Regions from separate parts of the Homo sapiens genome. Here region 1 is linked to region 2. The links come from fine-mapping of genetic effects on gene expression. Tissue or cell type: whole blood. Region 2 holds a variant in brackets; the other region holds the start of a gene. All regions are shown on one strand. Distances are between the middles of the regions.

Region 1 (8,320 bases), 240 kb after region 2:
AGAGAGAGAAAGGAGGGAGAAAGAGAGAGAGAGAGGGAGGGAGAAGCAGGCTTGCCTGGAGTCACAAAGAATATTAGTGGTTTTAAATGGGAACCAAACTCACAAGTTCTGAGTTCCAGATGCATGCTTTCTTCCTTTATATCATACAGCCTTCCTCCTGCCACACTTGGTTTCCAAGGCCCAGTCCCAGGTTTGCCTTTAGTGCTCTAGGGGACATGTATGAGACAGACCTCTCTTCTCTTCTGTCTGTTTTGTACCTATGCCCCAAGCAGTGCCTGTGAGTTGAGACTGAGAGTGAGAACCAGTGTGGGAGGAGAGAAGAAGGAAATGGGGTTTCCATGATGTGGCCCATAAGACCTTCTGCATCCACAGCCAAGATATACATCATTACCATCGCAGAGCTGCGGGAAATCCCAGAGTAGCTAACATTTCTCTGTTCATGAACTGGACAAACTCCACCTCAACCCAGGTGGATTGTCCCCCATTTGACATACCCCAATCTGCAACAAATTCTCACATTCCTTCATAGAACTGTCTTCTAGCTCCTAACCCTCTTCCATGTCACTCAGGTTGGAAGATCATCAGAACAAGAATTTCCCTGAGTATAATATTTGAGCATTCTGAGACTTCTATTGTCTAAGGAGCAGTTCAATCTGTTCGGGGAAAAGGAGAGATGTTACTTGGTAAATAACAGAAAGAAAAAATGCCCATTAGTCAATAGAACTCCTATTCCCCTCCCTTTTCATACTCTTTCTCCCACAAATAAGCGTAGCTGAATAAATACTGAAAGAAGACCATCTAAGACCTTTTTCCTCTCCTTCCCTTTCTTCCTTACTTCCACTTTTAGGATATGAATTTTAAGAAAGGCTTGTATAATTGCTACAGGAAATATTAAAGTTGTGGATTTGGAAAAAAAATTAATCGCTTGTTCTCAATGTAGGGAGACATCAAATATCTTCATTTGAATGGGCAATAAAGACATCAAGAATAAGAAACAGCAGTTTATCTGAGCTGATTTATAGATGGCTTCATCAAGAGAAAGTAGGGAGAATGAGCAGATTTCTCAACCATTGTGTTAGCTCTGTGAATTCGTATCTTTAATTCTTCAGTTTCATTTCCTTGGTAATAAGCTCTGTCCTGCATATATTCATTTTTCTTCTTTCCTGCTTTTCTTTTTCAATATCTACACACTCTCTTCTCCTCGTCCCTCTACTTATTTGACTGAACTCTTTTCTCAATCTGAAATCTGTGTTTAGGCCATTCTGCATCAGGCCTGGGTGTTGTAAGGCACACAGTACTGTGGGTACTGGAATATCCACTTTGGTCTTGTGCCTTAGGTGGAAAAGAGAACAGTTGTCAGTTTGCAGGTGGAAATAAACGTGTGATCTTTTCCCCTTACTGTAGCCCAGAAGGAATCTTGTAAGTCACAGCATTGGCTGAGACGAGACCTCCATACTAGAATCCAAATCAAACATTGAACTGAAAATGACGGTTGGGGCTTCATGTTCACTACATAATGCTGAATCGCAGGGTTCCATCTTAATTTTCAAAAAACCCAAGAGTTATGAGAACATGTTGGTAGCGTGGTTGTAAATGGTTTCTAAACACCCTGGGGTGCATGCGAATAACTCAGATGTTAAATTGCTTTCTATCCCTTCTGCTATATCTTCAGCTTGTTATTTCTGATAATAGTCCAAGTAGAGACAGACAATAAACCTGACTTCCCTTCTTCCTACTAACACTTCATGCTGCAAGACAATATTGTGAGATCTTTATCTCTAATCACTCAGCTGAACAACTATTGAGTCTGATACTTGGACACACAAGTTGAAGGTTCCTACCTCCAACCTCCCATCCTAGGTACTGCCCTGCACCATCTAGAAAGTCTCCTTACCTCTCTACTCAGGACCATTTGTGGTATACAGAGTCACTAGTACTTCCCTGGATATCTCCTGTAAATGCTCACAGTCTTGTCAAATCACTTCTGTGGAACTCTCCTTTCTTGTCCTTGCCCTGCCCTGGGGACCCACCCTTTTTCTTCCACCCACTGGTGAGCTTAGTGGCACAGAAGGGGCATGGGAAAACCCCAGGGTGGAGGATCTTTCCACTCCTCCATCTACCCCAAAACTCATGTAGGTGGTGATATGCTCTGCCTGCTACCACTGGGGCAAGGGGTGTTGGAGGAGCATGAAGCCCCCAATATTATGTAGGTCACTGAGAAGGCAACACATCCATCTATCTATCTTTGAGATGTGAACCCTGAAATCTGGTCCTGATGGTGGCTATCCATCTATCTTGAGCCTCCCGGTGAATTTGACCTTACCTCACTCAAGTGTGTACATCCTCCCTCGTAGCTGACCTCAATATATCTTGCTGCAGTTTATCTCAACAAGTTTCTTCTACAGCTTCTGAAGAAAGAGGTCATACCCACAGAAAGCAAAGTTGATTTCAGCCAGGTACTCTCAATGGTTGGAGCTATGGACACTAGAGTAGGGCCTGAAATGAAACCGGGAAACTTCTTCCTTGAGAACTTTTCGATGTTATAATCAGATGGAAATTGCAGCAACAATGAGTTCAGCAAGACACAGAGAAGAACTTTGCAGGTGAGAAAGGTGAAAAAAAATTCCTAAAATGTTATTCAAGTCATCAAAGAGACCCAAGTTTTGAGAATCTAGAAAGATTACCTCTCTGATAATAAAGAGAAAACAAACAAACGAAAGCAAAAGGGCACCCAGCATCGTTCTCCTAGGCATAATGATGGATGCTTTTAAGGTTGAAGTAAGAGTGGTGGGAGATTTTCTCTTGATTTTCCCTTGACTTGACAGCCTGATTTTTCTCTGACATGTTTCCTTCTTTCTCCTAGCATCACCCTAAATCAGTACAGCCTTGAAACTGAGATAAAGGCTGTGCTTACCTGTCTGCTGGTAGAAAGCTGAGTTTGAGGCAAAGCAGTTGTCGAAGCTGGGCCGAGGCCTTCACAGGTGTGGGCACAGAGGTGAAGCAAGTGAGAAAGTATCATGTTGTAGATTATGCCTTTCTCCCTGAACTCATTCAACTGCTGTTGCCTGCTCAAAAGGGGAAGCGGAAATGAGAACACACCACACACACACACATCCACACATGTAGATGCAGTCCCCGCCTCCTGGCCCAGCCACATCCTTTGCTCCGGCTCAGGAGACTGAGCGAAGGACAAACCATCCGTAGACACGGTGCTCACAACTAGGAAGACCTTCCTGCCCCAGAGCTGCCTCTGTCTTTCCAGAAAAACAGGAGATCTTTTCCTATTAAGGCAAAGGTACAGTCCATTTAAAGAGGTGTGTGCAGGAGTCTTCCTACCATATAACTAGAATTCCACTGCTGCAGATAAATCCTTCTGTCCTCAGGAGAGCTGTCTGAAAATGGGAAAGCTCTCTCTCATAAATGATCTGGCGTTTATCTCAGAGAAGAAGTTTCCAGTCGTATCACACACTTGAGAGGGCTCTGAGCCAGTCGCTCTGTGTTGATAACTTTCATACTCTGGTAAATTCCCCCGAAGCTTGTTTTTGAATACTGACTACTTTTTTTTTCTGTTAGTTTCTTAACTTTGTTTTATGTTCAAACCACTTCAAAGTTTTTGTTTTTGTAGTAAATGACTGCTTTCCCCAACGTTTTCAAAGCTGAACTTTTAAAATCGGTTACACCCTGAAGATGTCTTCAGTTTATTGGTTTTCAGTTTGGAAAAGGCTTGTTGAACTCTAAAAGGTTTCTCCCAGGCCTCAATCACTTTCACCCACCGGGAGCATCCAGCACTGCTAACTATCCCTCCTCGCTTCTCCAGTATCTCTGAACACTCTTCTCCGTAGGATGCTGCTGCATTTTGGATATCTTCTTTCTGTCTCTCTCCTGATTCTACTGTTTCCTTCTTTAAATCATTTATTTATGAATGTATATCACAATATTTATTCTACAAGGCACTCCTCTAATGTGTTAATTGTGACTGATTTTCACATGTTCATTACCTTCTTTCTGATTTTTTGGCTATAGGTATAGTTAGATTTTTTTTTTACCATGTTTCTAAATTCCATTTCCAATCATCAATGGGACAACTCCATTGAGTATCCATAGTATAGCTATAATATGGTAGAAATAATCCTAAATAAAATTCTTGCTTGGCAAATTAAGTTCTCAAAACATTATTTTCTTCAAGTATAATGTGAGGAAAATAACAATTCTCTCTGTTTCTCACTCAACCCTTCTCCCACGCTATTCCTTTTACGTAGGCATGAAAATATCTAACATATTTTCTCAGGACATAGTAGATGCTAAATATGTGCTTCTCTGAGAATTAGCTTCACAGTCAACAAGTAAAATGCTAAATCCAACACGCCCTAATTCTCTTTATTTACTATTCTTTTCCGTACAAATTAACTATAAAAGCTGAACTAATGGAAACTTAACAACTCTTTTAAATCCTAAGTTTCTAGAATTCAATGTTTTCCTTAACAGTTGTTTTCCAATATGTTTGGGAAATGGAGAATATAACTTCGGTAGGGAGTTTGGAAATATGTGAGAGAGATTTAATTTTCAAAGAAATGGGAAGCTGATACTGGTATTTAGTACCTGAGGGCCAATGATGATAAGTGCTTTTGAAGGGATGGGACTCTTCAGTATAAGGAATAATTGTCCTGGCCCAAATGTCAACATTTTGTTAACATTGATAGTTTGATGGTTAGGAGAGCAGGCTTTAGAGTGAAGCTCTGGCATCAAGTAGCTCTGTAGTCTTGGATACGTTAACATCTCTAGGTCTCAGTTTGTTAGCTGCTAAATGGGGATAACCTTACAGGAGTGGTTGTAGAGCTATAAGAATAAAGGAATACAGAGTATTCAGTCCAGCGCCTACCTTACAGCAAATGCTCAAGAAATTGCAGCTATTTTTAAGACTCTTGAAATATAATAGTTTCTTTTAACTTTTATTTTAAGTTCAGTGGTACATGTGCAAGTTTGTTACATAGGTAAACTCCTGTCATAGGGGTTTGTTGTACAGATTATTTCATCACCCAGGTATTAAGCCTAGTACCCAATAGGTATTTGTTTTGATCCTCTCCCTCCTTCCACCCTCTACCCTCCCATAGGCCCCAGTGTGTGTTGTTTCCCTCTATGTGTCCATGTGTTCTCATCATTTAGCTCCCACTTATAGGTGAGAACATGCGGTATTTGGTTTTCTGTTCCTGTGTTAGTTTGCTAAGGATAATGGCCTCCAGCTCCATCCATGTTGCTGCAAAGGACATGATCTCATTCTTTTTTATGGCTGCATAGTATTCCATGGTGTATATGTGCCACATTTTCTTTATCCAGTCTATCATCACTGGGCATTTGGGTTGATTCCATGTCTTTGCTATTGTGAATAGTGTTGCAGCAAACATACATGTGCTCGTGTCTTTATAACAGAATGATTTATATTCCTCCAGGTATATACTCGGTAATGGGATTGCTGAGTCTAAAGATATTTCTGTTTTTAGGTCTTTGAGCAATCGCCACATTGTCTTCCACAAGGGTTGAACTAATTTACACTCCCGCCAACAGTGTATAAACATTCCTTTTCCTCTGCCACCTCGCCAACATCTTTTATTTTTTGACTTTTTAATAATAGCCATTCTGAGTAGTGTGAGATGGTATCTCATTGTGGTTTTGATTTGCATGAAATATAATATTTTCAGTTTCTGCAGAATACTATGTCTATCTGTCAAAATTACCTCACTCATTAAAGATACCATTTCACAAGCAATTGCTAGAGATTTTTTTGTTAATAAAAAAGATGTATTAATTTTTGGTTTTTATTTATATTTATTCTTAATTTTTATGAGTACATATGTAGGTTTATATGTTTATAGTATTTGTGATTTATTTTTTGAAAGAAATATTTTTCTCTTCTACAAGCAGCTTCTGAAAGACAAAGATGAAGACTATATGATTCCTAGGAGGAGGAGGCGGCCCAGGGTATTCCTCTGTTTATCTTCTTTCTCAGTTGTATAGTCTTTCTCTTTCTTTCTTTGTTTCTTTCCTTCTTTCCCTTCCTTCCTTCCATTCCTTTTCCTTCCTTCCTTCCTTCCTTCCTTCTTTCCTTCCTTCCCTCCTTTCCTCCTTCCCCTTTCTCTTTTTTCCCTCTCACCTGCCCTTCCCACCCTTTGAAAACATTGTCTCTATATCTTTGGCACCATGAACTTCTCTGAGCATATATTCCAGGTGCTTCATGAAAACAAAATGACTTGTTCTTTTTATACGAGACGCAGTAGTTCAGGGTTTCTGAAGGTTTTTTTGTGAGCTTGTTCATTTTTTTTCCCTTGGTTAAAAATAAAAACCCTTATGCTAACTGAGATAATGAATTAGCTCTCTACTGCCTATGTGATTCAGCAGTTTGGTGCCTCATGATAGGGCCTATTTGTCATTCCATGGCTCCCTCTCTTGTGTTTTATAGAATTTAGTAAAAACCCTGAACTAGGGGTAAAAGAGCAATCTGAGTTTAAAACTATACTAGTTACTTAATTTCACTGGATATCGGTATCACCTTCTGACAGAGAAATATTTTCTAAGATCCTCTTGGCTTTAGATGTCAGTAACACCTGTACAGACTATTTTTCTCTACCCTTTTATAACTGCATGTAGTTTATTATGGAAAATGAAAATATTAAGTGATATTTGGTAAGAAATTATTATAAAGGTATTAGAAAAAGTATTTTGAAAGACTCTTTTCCATTGAAAAGCCAAGTAAATATTGCTTTTGAATAATATTATCCTCTAGACATGTAACCTGATAACACTGATAAATAAGAACAATTTCTGAACACTGATGAGCCCATCAAACAGATGGGCTGTAGTGAGTATAAGTTCTGGAGCTGCAGAACTACAGGCTGAGCTGGCAGGTTGCCCAGACCTGGGGCAGAGCCAGGACAGCTGTCCATAGAGGCTGTCCCAAGACAGAGAAGCTGCTGCTCAGAGCCACTGCTCTGGGCCGAGCAGCTGGGCCCCTCTGCCCAGGCCCAGATGCAAATCATCTGCCTCCATTTCAGCTCTCAACCTTCTTCTTTCTCAGATCCTGGGGTTTGCAAATGCCATTTTTGTTTTGTTTTGTTTGGCTGTTTTGTTTTTTTTGCTAAGAGTCTGTTCCTCCAAATTGCTGATGTGGGAATTTGAGTGACTTTGTCTCCTTCCTGTACCAAAGGCTCAAAAGTAGAAAGAGAGAGTGGATAGAATTGTAGGGGAGAGAGCAGTGATTTAACTCACCAAGGATTTTCTGAACTTTCTCCAGGCAGAAAAGTGTCCACCAAGGTCATCTTGTTCTTTTCTCTGCTTCTATGTTCTGGTTGTTAAGGATACAAACAAATGGGATTCTCTAACTTTTCTAACCTACCCATTCTACTAAATTACTCCACTCAATGCCAGAAAGTTCTTCCTTCTGTCTGGCTGTATCTTCCCTCTGTAAGAGTCCAGCAAAACAGAAGAGCAATCCATCTCAGGCCTCTGCAGAGGGTGTTCTTTCAGTGATCTGGATTGTAATTCTACCCAAAATGTATTTTATTGGATACCTTCTGAGTGTCAGAAATGAGATAGATCTGGGGAAGGGACTGAGGGGAGTATAGAAGGAGAGGAAGATATACAAGGGGGAGAAACAGTATCAAATACTGTCCCTTAGAGGGCTTATTTTCTAGTATGATCAAGTAATTTGGGGAAATACAGGGTTAACAAAAGACAAACATGTTCCTTTAAGGCAGTGGTCCCCAACCTTTTGGCATCAAGGACTGGTTTCATGGAAGACAATTTTTCCATGGGAGCAGGGTGAGGGGGAGGGTTTGGCGATGAAACTGTTCCACTTCAGATGATCATGCCTGCCACTCACCTTCCTGCTGTGAGGCCAGGTTCCTAACAGGCAACCAAACTGTGCTGGTCTGTGGTCCAGGGGTTGAGGCCCCCTGCTTTAAGGCATAACTTCTTGAGGCTTTTAATAGATTAACATGAATTGTGACTCTCCTAGAAGGAGAAAGTTTTGTATTTCCCAAATGTATTGGCCTATGGATTCCCCTGCCCTCCCCTCCCCTCCCCTCTCCTTCCCTACCCTTCCCTTATCTTTCCTTCCTTCCTTGGAACATCCCAAGGAAATTATTTTGGAAAAGTTTTCTTCCACTACAGCCACTTCTCTGGATTAAATCGTGACATTAACATCTTTGATTATATTCAGATGGCTATGAACACAGGATTGAATTCTCAGTGAGCCTATGTTTCATCTTTCTTTTGATCAAGCCCATTTAACTCAGAATCACAGGTCTTAATTGAGTTCTTCTGTGTG
Region 2 (8,320 bases):
ATGTGCCTATTTTTATACCAATACCATGCTGTTTTTGTGACTATGGCCTTATAATATAATTTGCAATCAGGCAGTGTGATGCCTCCAGATTTGTTCTTTTTGCTTAGTCTTGCTTTGGCTATGTGGGCTCTTTTTTGGTTTCATATGAATTTTAGAATTTTTTTTTCTAATTCTGTGAAGAATGATGGTGGCATTTTGATGGGGATTGCATTGAATTTGTAGATTGCTTTTGGTAGTATGGTCATTTTCACAATACTGATTCTACCCATCCATGAGCATGGTTTGTGTTTCCATTTGTTTGTGTCATCTATGATTTCTTTCGGCAGTGTTTTGTAGTTTTCCTCGTAGAGGTCTTTCAACTCCTCGGTTAGGTATATTACTAAGTATTTGTTTTAATTTTTTTTGCAGCTATTGTAAAAGGGGTTGAGTTCTTGATTTGATTCTCTGCTTGGTCGTTGTTGGTGTATAGAAGAGCTACTGATTAGTGTACATTAATCTTGTATCCAGAAATTTTGCTGAATTATTGTATCAGTTCTTGGAGCCTTCTGGAGGAGTCTTTAGGGTTTTCGAGGTAAACAATCATATCATCAGCGAACAGTGACAGTTTGAATTCCTCTTTACTAATTGGATGCCCTTTATTTCTTTCTGTTGTCTGATTGCTCTGGCTAGGACTTACAGTACTATGGTGAAGAGGAATAGTGAGAGTGGGCATCCTTGTCTTGTTCCAGTTCTCAGAGGGAATGCTTTCAACTTTTCCCATTCACTATTATGTTGGCTGTGGGTTTGTCATAGATGGCTTTTATTACATTGAGGTATGCCCCTTGTATGCTGATTTTGCTCAGAGTTTTAATTAAAAGGGATGCTGGATTTTGTCAAATGCCTTTTCTGCATCTATTGAGATGATCATGTGATTTTTGTTTTTAATTCTACTTATGTGGTATATCACATTTATTGACTTGCATATGTTAAATCATCCCTGCATCCCTGGTATGAAGCCACTTGATCATGGCGGATTATCTTTTTGATATGTTGTTGGATTCTATTAGCTAATATTTTGTTAAGGATTTTAACATTTATGTTCATCAAGGATATCGGTCTGTAGTTTTCTTTTTTGGTTATGTCATTTCCTGGTTTTGGTATTAGGTTGATGCTAGCTTCATAGAATGAATTAAGGCAGGTTCCCTCTTTTTCTAACTTGTGGAATAGTGTCAAAAGAATTGGTACCAATTGGTCTTTGAATATCTGGTAGAATTCTGTTATGAATCTGTCTGGTCCTGGACTTTTCTCTGTTGGTGATTTTAAATTACCATTTCAATCTTGCTGCTTATTCTTGGTCTGTCCAGGGTATCTAATTCTTCCTGATTTAAGCTAGGAGGGTTGTATTTTTTCAGAAATTTATCCATATCTTCTAGGTTTTCTAGTTTATGTGCATAAAGGTGTTCATAGTAGCCTTAAATAACCTTTTGTATTTCTGTGGTGTCAGTTGTAACATCTGCTGTTTTGTTTCTTATTGATGCTATTTGGATTTCTCTCTTCTTTTCTTTATTAATCTTGCTATTGGTCTATCAATTTTATTTGTCTTTTCAAAGAACCAGCTTTTTGTTTTATTTATCTTTTGTATTTTTTTGGTTTCAATTTCATTTAGTTTTGCTCTTATCTTGGTTATTTCCTTTCTTCTGCTGGGTTTGGGTTTGGTTTGTTCTTGTTTCTCTTGTTCCTTGAGGTATAACCTCAGAGTGTCATTTTGCACTTTTTCAGTCTTTTTAATGTAGGTATTTAGGGCTATGTACTTTCTTCTTAGCACTGTCTTTGTTGTATTGCAGAGGATTGATAGGTTATGTCACTATTGTCATTCAGTTCGAATAATTTTTAAATTTACATCTTGATTTTGTTTTTGACCTGATGATCATTCAGGAGCAGGTTATTTAGTTTCCATGTATTTGCATAGTTTCAAAGGTTCCTTTGGGAGGTGATTTCCAGTTTTATTTCACTGTGGTCTAAGAAAGTGCTCGATATAATTTAAATTTTCTTAAATTTATTGAGGCTCATTTCGTGGCCTATCTTATGGTCTATCTTGGAGAAAGTTACATGCACTGTTGAATAGAATGTGTATTCTGCAGTTGTTGGATGGAATGTTCTGTATATATCTATTAAGTTTATTTGTTTCAAGGTATAGTTTAAATCCATTATTTCTTTGTTGACTTTCTGTCTTGATGACCTGTCCAGTGCTGTCAGTGGAGTATTGATGAAGTCCCCCACTATTATTGTGTTGCTGTCTTTTTCATTTCTTAGGTCTATTAGTAATTGTTTTATAAATTTATGAGCTGCAATGTTAGGTGCTTATATGTTTAGGATTGTGATATTTTCCTGTTGGACAAGACCTTTTACCATTACATAATGTCCCCTTTGTTTTTTTTAACTGCTCTTGCTTTAAAGTTTGTTTTGTCTGACATAATAATAGCTACTCCTGCTTGCTTTTGGTGTCCATTCACATGAAATGCCCTTTTCCACCCCTTTAAGTTTATATGAATCCTTGTGTGTTAGATGAGTCTCTTCAAGGCAGCAGATAGTTGGTTGGTGAATTCTTATTCATTCTGCAGTTCTGTATCTTTTAAGTGGGGCATTTAGGCCATTTACATTCAATGTTAGTATTGAGATGTGAGGTACCATTCCATTCATCTTGCTATTTCTTGACTGTGTACCTTGGTTTTTTTTTTTTGCTTTTTAACTTGTGTTTTTGTTTTATAGGTCCTGTGAGATGTATACTTTAAAGATGCTCTGTTTTGGTGTATTTCCAGGATTTGTCTCAAGATTTAGAGCTCCTTTTAGCAGTTCTTGTAGTGGTGGCTTGGTAGTGGCGAATTCGCTCAGCATTTGTTTTTCTGGAAAAGACTGTATCTTCCTTTACATATAATGTTTAGTTTTACTGGATAAAAAATTCTTGGCTGATAATTGTTTTGTTTGAAGAGGCTGAAAACAGGGCCCCAATCCCTTCTAGCATGTAGGGTTTCTGCTGAGGAATCTGCTGTTGATCTGATAGGTTTTCCTTTATAGGTTACCTGGTGCTTTTGTCTCACAGCCCTTAAGATTCTTTCCTTTGTCTTAACTTTGGATAACCTGACGACAATGTGCCTAGGTGAAGATCTTTTTGTGATGAATGTCCTAGGTGTTCTTTGTACTTCTTGTATTTGGATGTCTAGGCCTCTGGCAAGGCTGGGGAAGTTTTCCTTGATTATTACTCCAAGTATGTTTTCCAAACTTTAGATTTCTCTTCTTCCTCAGCGATGCCAATTATTCTTAGGTTCAGTCATTTAACATAATTCCAGACTTCTTGGAGGCTTTGTTTATGTTTTCTTATTCTTTTTTCTTTGTCTTTGTTGGATTGAGTTAATTCAAAGACTTTGCCTTCAGCTCTGAATTTCTTTCTTCTACTTGTTCAATCTATTGCTGAGACTTTCCAGAGCATTTTGCAATTCTATGTGTCCAGCGTTTCCTGCAGTTTTAATTGTTTTTTTATTTATGCTATTTATTTCCTTGAATATTTCTCCCTTCACTTCTTGTATTTTTTTCTTTTTATTTCCTTGCATTGGGTTTTTGCCTTTCTCTGTTGCCTCCCTGATTAGCTTAATAACTAACCTCTTGAATTCTTTTTCAGGTAAATTGGGGATTTCTTCTTGGTTTGGATCCATTACTGGTGAGGTAGTGTGATTTTCTGGGGGTGCAAAAGAGCCTTGTTTTGTCATACTACCAGAATTGGTTTTCTAATTCCTTCTCATTGGGGTAGGCTCTGTCAGAGGGAAGGTCTAGGGCTGAAGGCTGTTGTTCAGATTCTTTTGTCCCATGGGGTGTTCCCTTGATGTAGTACTCTCCCCTTTTCCTATGGATGTGGCTTCCTGAGAGGTGAGCTGTAGTGATT[G/A]TTATCTCTCTTCTGGGTCTAGCCACCCAGCAAATCTATCAGGCTCCAGGCTGGTGCTGGGGGTTGTTTGCACAGAGTCCTGTGATGTGACCTGTCTATGGGTCACATCCCATGGATACAAGCACCTTTTCTGGTGGAGGTGGCAGGTAGGTGAAATGGACTCTGTGAGGGTTCTTAGATTTCTTGGTTTAACGCTCTATTTTGGTGCTGGTTGGCCTCCTGCCAGGAGGTGGTGCTTTCCAGAGAGCATCAGCTGTGGTAGTATGAAGAGGAACCAGTGGTGGGCAGGGCCCTAGAACTCCCAAAAGTACATGCCCTTTGTGTTCAGATACCTGGGTGGATAGGGAAGGACCATCAGGTGGGGGCAGGGCTAGGTGTGTCTGAGCTCAGACTCCTTGGGCAGGTCAGTTGTGGCTGCTGTGGGGGATGGGGGCGAGGTTACCAGTTGAATGGAGTTATGTACCTAGGAGGATTATGGCTGCCTCTGCTGAGTCATGCAGGTTGTCAGGGAAGTTGGGGAAAGCTGGCAGTCACAGACCTCACCCAGCTCCCATGCAATCTGTAGGGCTGGTCTCACTCCCACCGTGCCCCACCTAAAAGCACCGCCTCTGTTTCCAGGCAGTGGGCAAGCAGGGCTGAGGACCTACCCCAGACTACCTACCTCCCAGCTACAAAAGAATAGGGCTTTAGTTCTTCCTCTGCCTGTGGAGTCTGCAGGCCAGATTCATGCCTTCCCCTGAGTTCTGGCCAGGAGGCTTCTGGAGTGTTTCAAATTGTTACAAAGTTCAGCTGGAGGTTTCCTTCTCCCTGTGGCATTTTCCCCACACCTCTGGCTTCCCTCCCAAAGGATCCCTGTGATGCCAGGCAGGAATAGCCTGCTTCAGGACCCAGTCAACTTCCAGGGCCTTTCCTGGTGCTTCTTCTACCCTTGTGTTTCGCTCAGCTCTCTAAATTGACTCAGCTACAGGTAAGGTCAGAATCTTCTGCAAACTAGACCTTCAGTTTCCCCAGTAGGGGTGTGTGTTCTGGGATGGAGGATCTCCCTTTCTCACTTCTGCAGTTTGGGCAGTCACAGTATTTGGGATGTCTCCCAGGTCCTGCAGGAACAGTCTGCTTCCTTTGGATGATCTGTAGATCCTCACAGGTTTCCTGATTTATTCCTGCAGTCATTCTGGAGCTAAAATTCACAATGCAAGCTTCCGCATGCAGCAAGCTAGTCCTGCCTCCCATCCACCATGATGATCTTTTAAGTCTAATGTGTGACATCATTTTTGAAGTACTGCCAAACAGCTTGGCTCATTGGAGCCTTGTTGTCCAGAGTTTTTATTGGGGGTCAGTTGCATGGGCATGGAACATCCACTTGACTGACCTAAGCTACTCAGTTGCCAGCTCCCCCAGAGGTCAAACTGATGCATTGTGGCCCAGAAACAGATAAACAGAAACATGAATTCAACATAAATCACATTGTTCGCATAAATTATCTGGTGTGGCTCAAGGTCTTGGGTTTACAAAGACATTCATTAAGAAGGCTATTCCAAAAGGCTCAGAGGTTATCTCCCAGGAGCTGATCAAAGGCCAGTCCTTTGTTTGGAATGTGCAGGGTTTGAACACACCAGGCCTAGCTGAGATAACCTTTTACTGTATTTGCAGAATTTACTGCACTTGCAGAATTTACTCTTCACACAGAATGCTATGAGGGTTAGCAATGCATCTGAATGGCACACGTTTGTATTATTGATGTTGTTAGGTTATTGGCTATCAAGGAATCTTTAAGATAATATGATCATTGGTCATGCAGGTGTTCAGTAATGCCAGAAATGGATGTGGAAGTAGGTATTCAGATAAAGGCAGAAGTTGAAGTCAAAGTTGAAGAGCAGATTCAAAGACAAAAGAGATTTTTTTTATAAAAATGCATTTAAAAATTATTTATTTTTATTGATATATAATACTTTACATATTTATGGCATAAATATGATATTTTGTTGTATGCATAGAATGCATAATGATAAAGTCAGGGTATTTGGGTTATGTATCACCTTCAGTATTATCTCTGCATTGGGAACAATTCAAGTACTCTCTTCTAGCTACTTTGAAGTATATGTTGCAACTATAGTCACCCTACTCTGCTATTGAACATTAGGACTTATATCTTCTATCTGACTGTATTTTTGTAGCCATTAACCAACCTCTCTTCATCACTTCTTCCACCCACATTCTGTTCCCAGCCTCTGGTATCTATCTTCTACTTTCTACCTTCTCAAGATCAAGTATTTAGCACTCACATATGAGTGAGAACATGTGATATTTGAAGCCACTTGGTGAAAGTGGGCATACTTATCTTGTCCCAGTTCTTAGAGGAAAGGCTTTCAGCTTTCTACCATTCAATATGATATTAGCATGGATTTGTCACATATGGCCTTTATTGTTTTGAGGTACGTTCCTTCTATGCCTGGTTTGTTGAGAGTTTTTATCATGAAGGGATGTTGAATTTTATCAAATTATTTTTCTGCGTATTTGAGATGATCATATGGTTTTTGTCCTTCATTTTGTTGATGTGATGTATCATGTTTAATGATTTGCATATGTTGAAGCATTCTTAGATCCCTGGGATGAATCTTACCTGATCATGGTGTATGATCTTTTGATGTTCTGTAGGATTCAGTTTGCTAATATTTTGTTGAGAATTTTTGCATCTATATTCATCGGAAATATTGGCCTGTAGTTTCTTTTTTGTTGTGTCCTTGTCTAGTTTTGGTATCAGGTAATGCTGGCCTCACAGAATGAGCTAGGGAGAATTCTTTCCTCTTGAATTTTTTGAAATAATTTGAGGAGAATTGGTGTTAGTTTCTCTTTAAAGATTTGGTAGAATTTGGCACTAAAACCACCTAGACTCCTAGATTTGATAAATGAATTCAATAAAGTCCCAGGTTACAAAATCAATGTACACAAATCAGTAGCACTGCTACACACCAACAGCAACCTAGCTGGGAATCAAATCAAGAACTCAACCCCTGCCTTTTTTTTTTTTGAAACAGAGTCTCACTCTGTCACCCAGGCTGGAGTGCAGTGGCGTGATCTTGGCTCACTGCAACCTTTGCCTCCCGAGTTCAAGCTATTCTCCTGCCTCAGCCTCCTGAGTAGCTAGACTACAGGCACCCACCACCATGCCCAGCTATTTTTTTTTTGTATTTTTAGTAGAGACGGGGTTTCACCATATTGGCCAGGCTGGTCTTGAACTCCTGACCTTGTGATCTGCCTGCCTCAGCCTCCCAAAGTGCTGGGATTACAAGTGTGAGCCACCATGCCTGGCTGAACTCAATCCCTTTTAAAACAGCTTCAAAAACATAAAGTATCTAGGAATACACCTATCCAAGGAAAGATTTCTGCAAGTAAAACTGCAAAACACTGCTGAAAGAAATCATAGACCACACAAACAAATGGTAACACATCCCATGCTCATGGATGGGTAAAATCAATATCGTGAAAATGGCCATACTGCCAAAAGCAATCTGTAAGTTCAATGCAATTCCCATCAAAATGCCGCTATCATTCTTCACAGAACTAGAAAAGACAATCCTAGAATTCATATGGAACCAAAAAAGAGCCCATGTAGCCAAATCAAGACTAAGCAAAAAGAACAAATCTGGAGGCATCACATTACCTGACTTCAAACTCTACTACAAGGCTATAGTTACCAAAACAGCTTGGTAGGCAGTGTACAGTGGCTCACGCCTATAGTCCCAGCACTTTGGGAAGCTGAGGTGGGCAGATCACTTGAGGTCAGGAGTTCAAGACCAGCCTGGCCAACATAGTGAAACCCAGTCTCTACTAAAAATACAAAAATTAGCTGGGCATGGTGGCACGTGCCTGTAATCCTAGCTACTTGGGAGGTTGAGGTGGAAGAATTGCTTGAACCCAGGGGGCAGAAGTTGCAGTGAGCCAAGATTGTGCCACTGCATCCCAGCCTGGGGGACAGAGTGAGACCTTGACTCAAAACAAACAAACAAACAAACAAACAACAACAACAAAAAACAAAAACAGCATGGTATTGGTAAAAAACAGGCCCATAGGCCATGCGAACAGAATAGAGAACACAGAAATAAAGCCAAATACTTACAGCCAACTGATCTTTGACAAAGCAAACAAAAGCATAAAGTGGGGAAAGGACACTCAATTCAATAAATGGTGCTGGGATAATTAGCAAACCACATGTAGAATGATCCTCATCTCTCACCTTGTACAAAAATCAACTCAAGATGGATCAAAGACTTGAATCTAAGACCTGATACCATAAAAATTCTAGAAGATAATGTAGGAAAAGGTCTTCTAGACATTGGCTTAGGCAAAGAGTTCATGACCAACAACCCAAAAGCAAATGCAACAAAAACAAAGATAAAGAGATGG

Evidence for each region. PIP is the estimated chance that this variant, and not a neighbour inherited with it, causes the effect.
Region 1: it holds the start of TESPA1, and the variant in region 2 is fine-mapped to the expression of TESPA1 in whole blood (TOPMed, PIP above 0.99).

What each region holds. Positions count from the first base shown.
Region 1 is chr12:54,981,671-54,989,990 of GRCh38, forward strand. It overlaps TESPA1 (thymocyte expressed, positive selection associated 1), which reads right to left and starts at 3,092. Exons shown (of 11, transcript NM_001136030.3): 1 at 2,915-3,092. It overlaps LOC107984515 (a long non-coding RNA gene), which reads left to right and starts at 3,181. Exons shown (of 2, transcript XR_001749161.2): 1 at 3,181-3,295.
Region 2 is chr12:54,739,338-54,747,657 of GRCh38, forward strand. No RefSeq gene overlaps it. Among named protein-coding and RNA genes, the nearest start is that of DCD, 95 kb to the left of the region's middle. The variant G/A (reference allele first, on the strand shown) is at 3,917.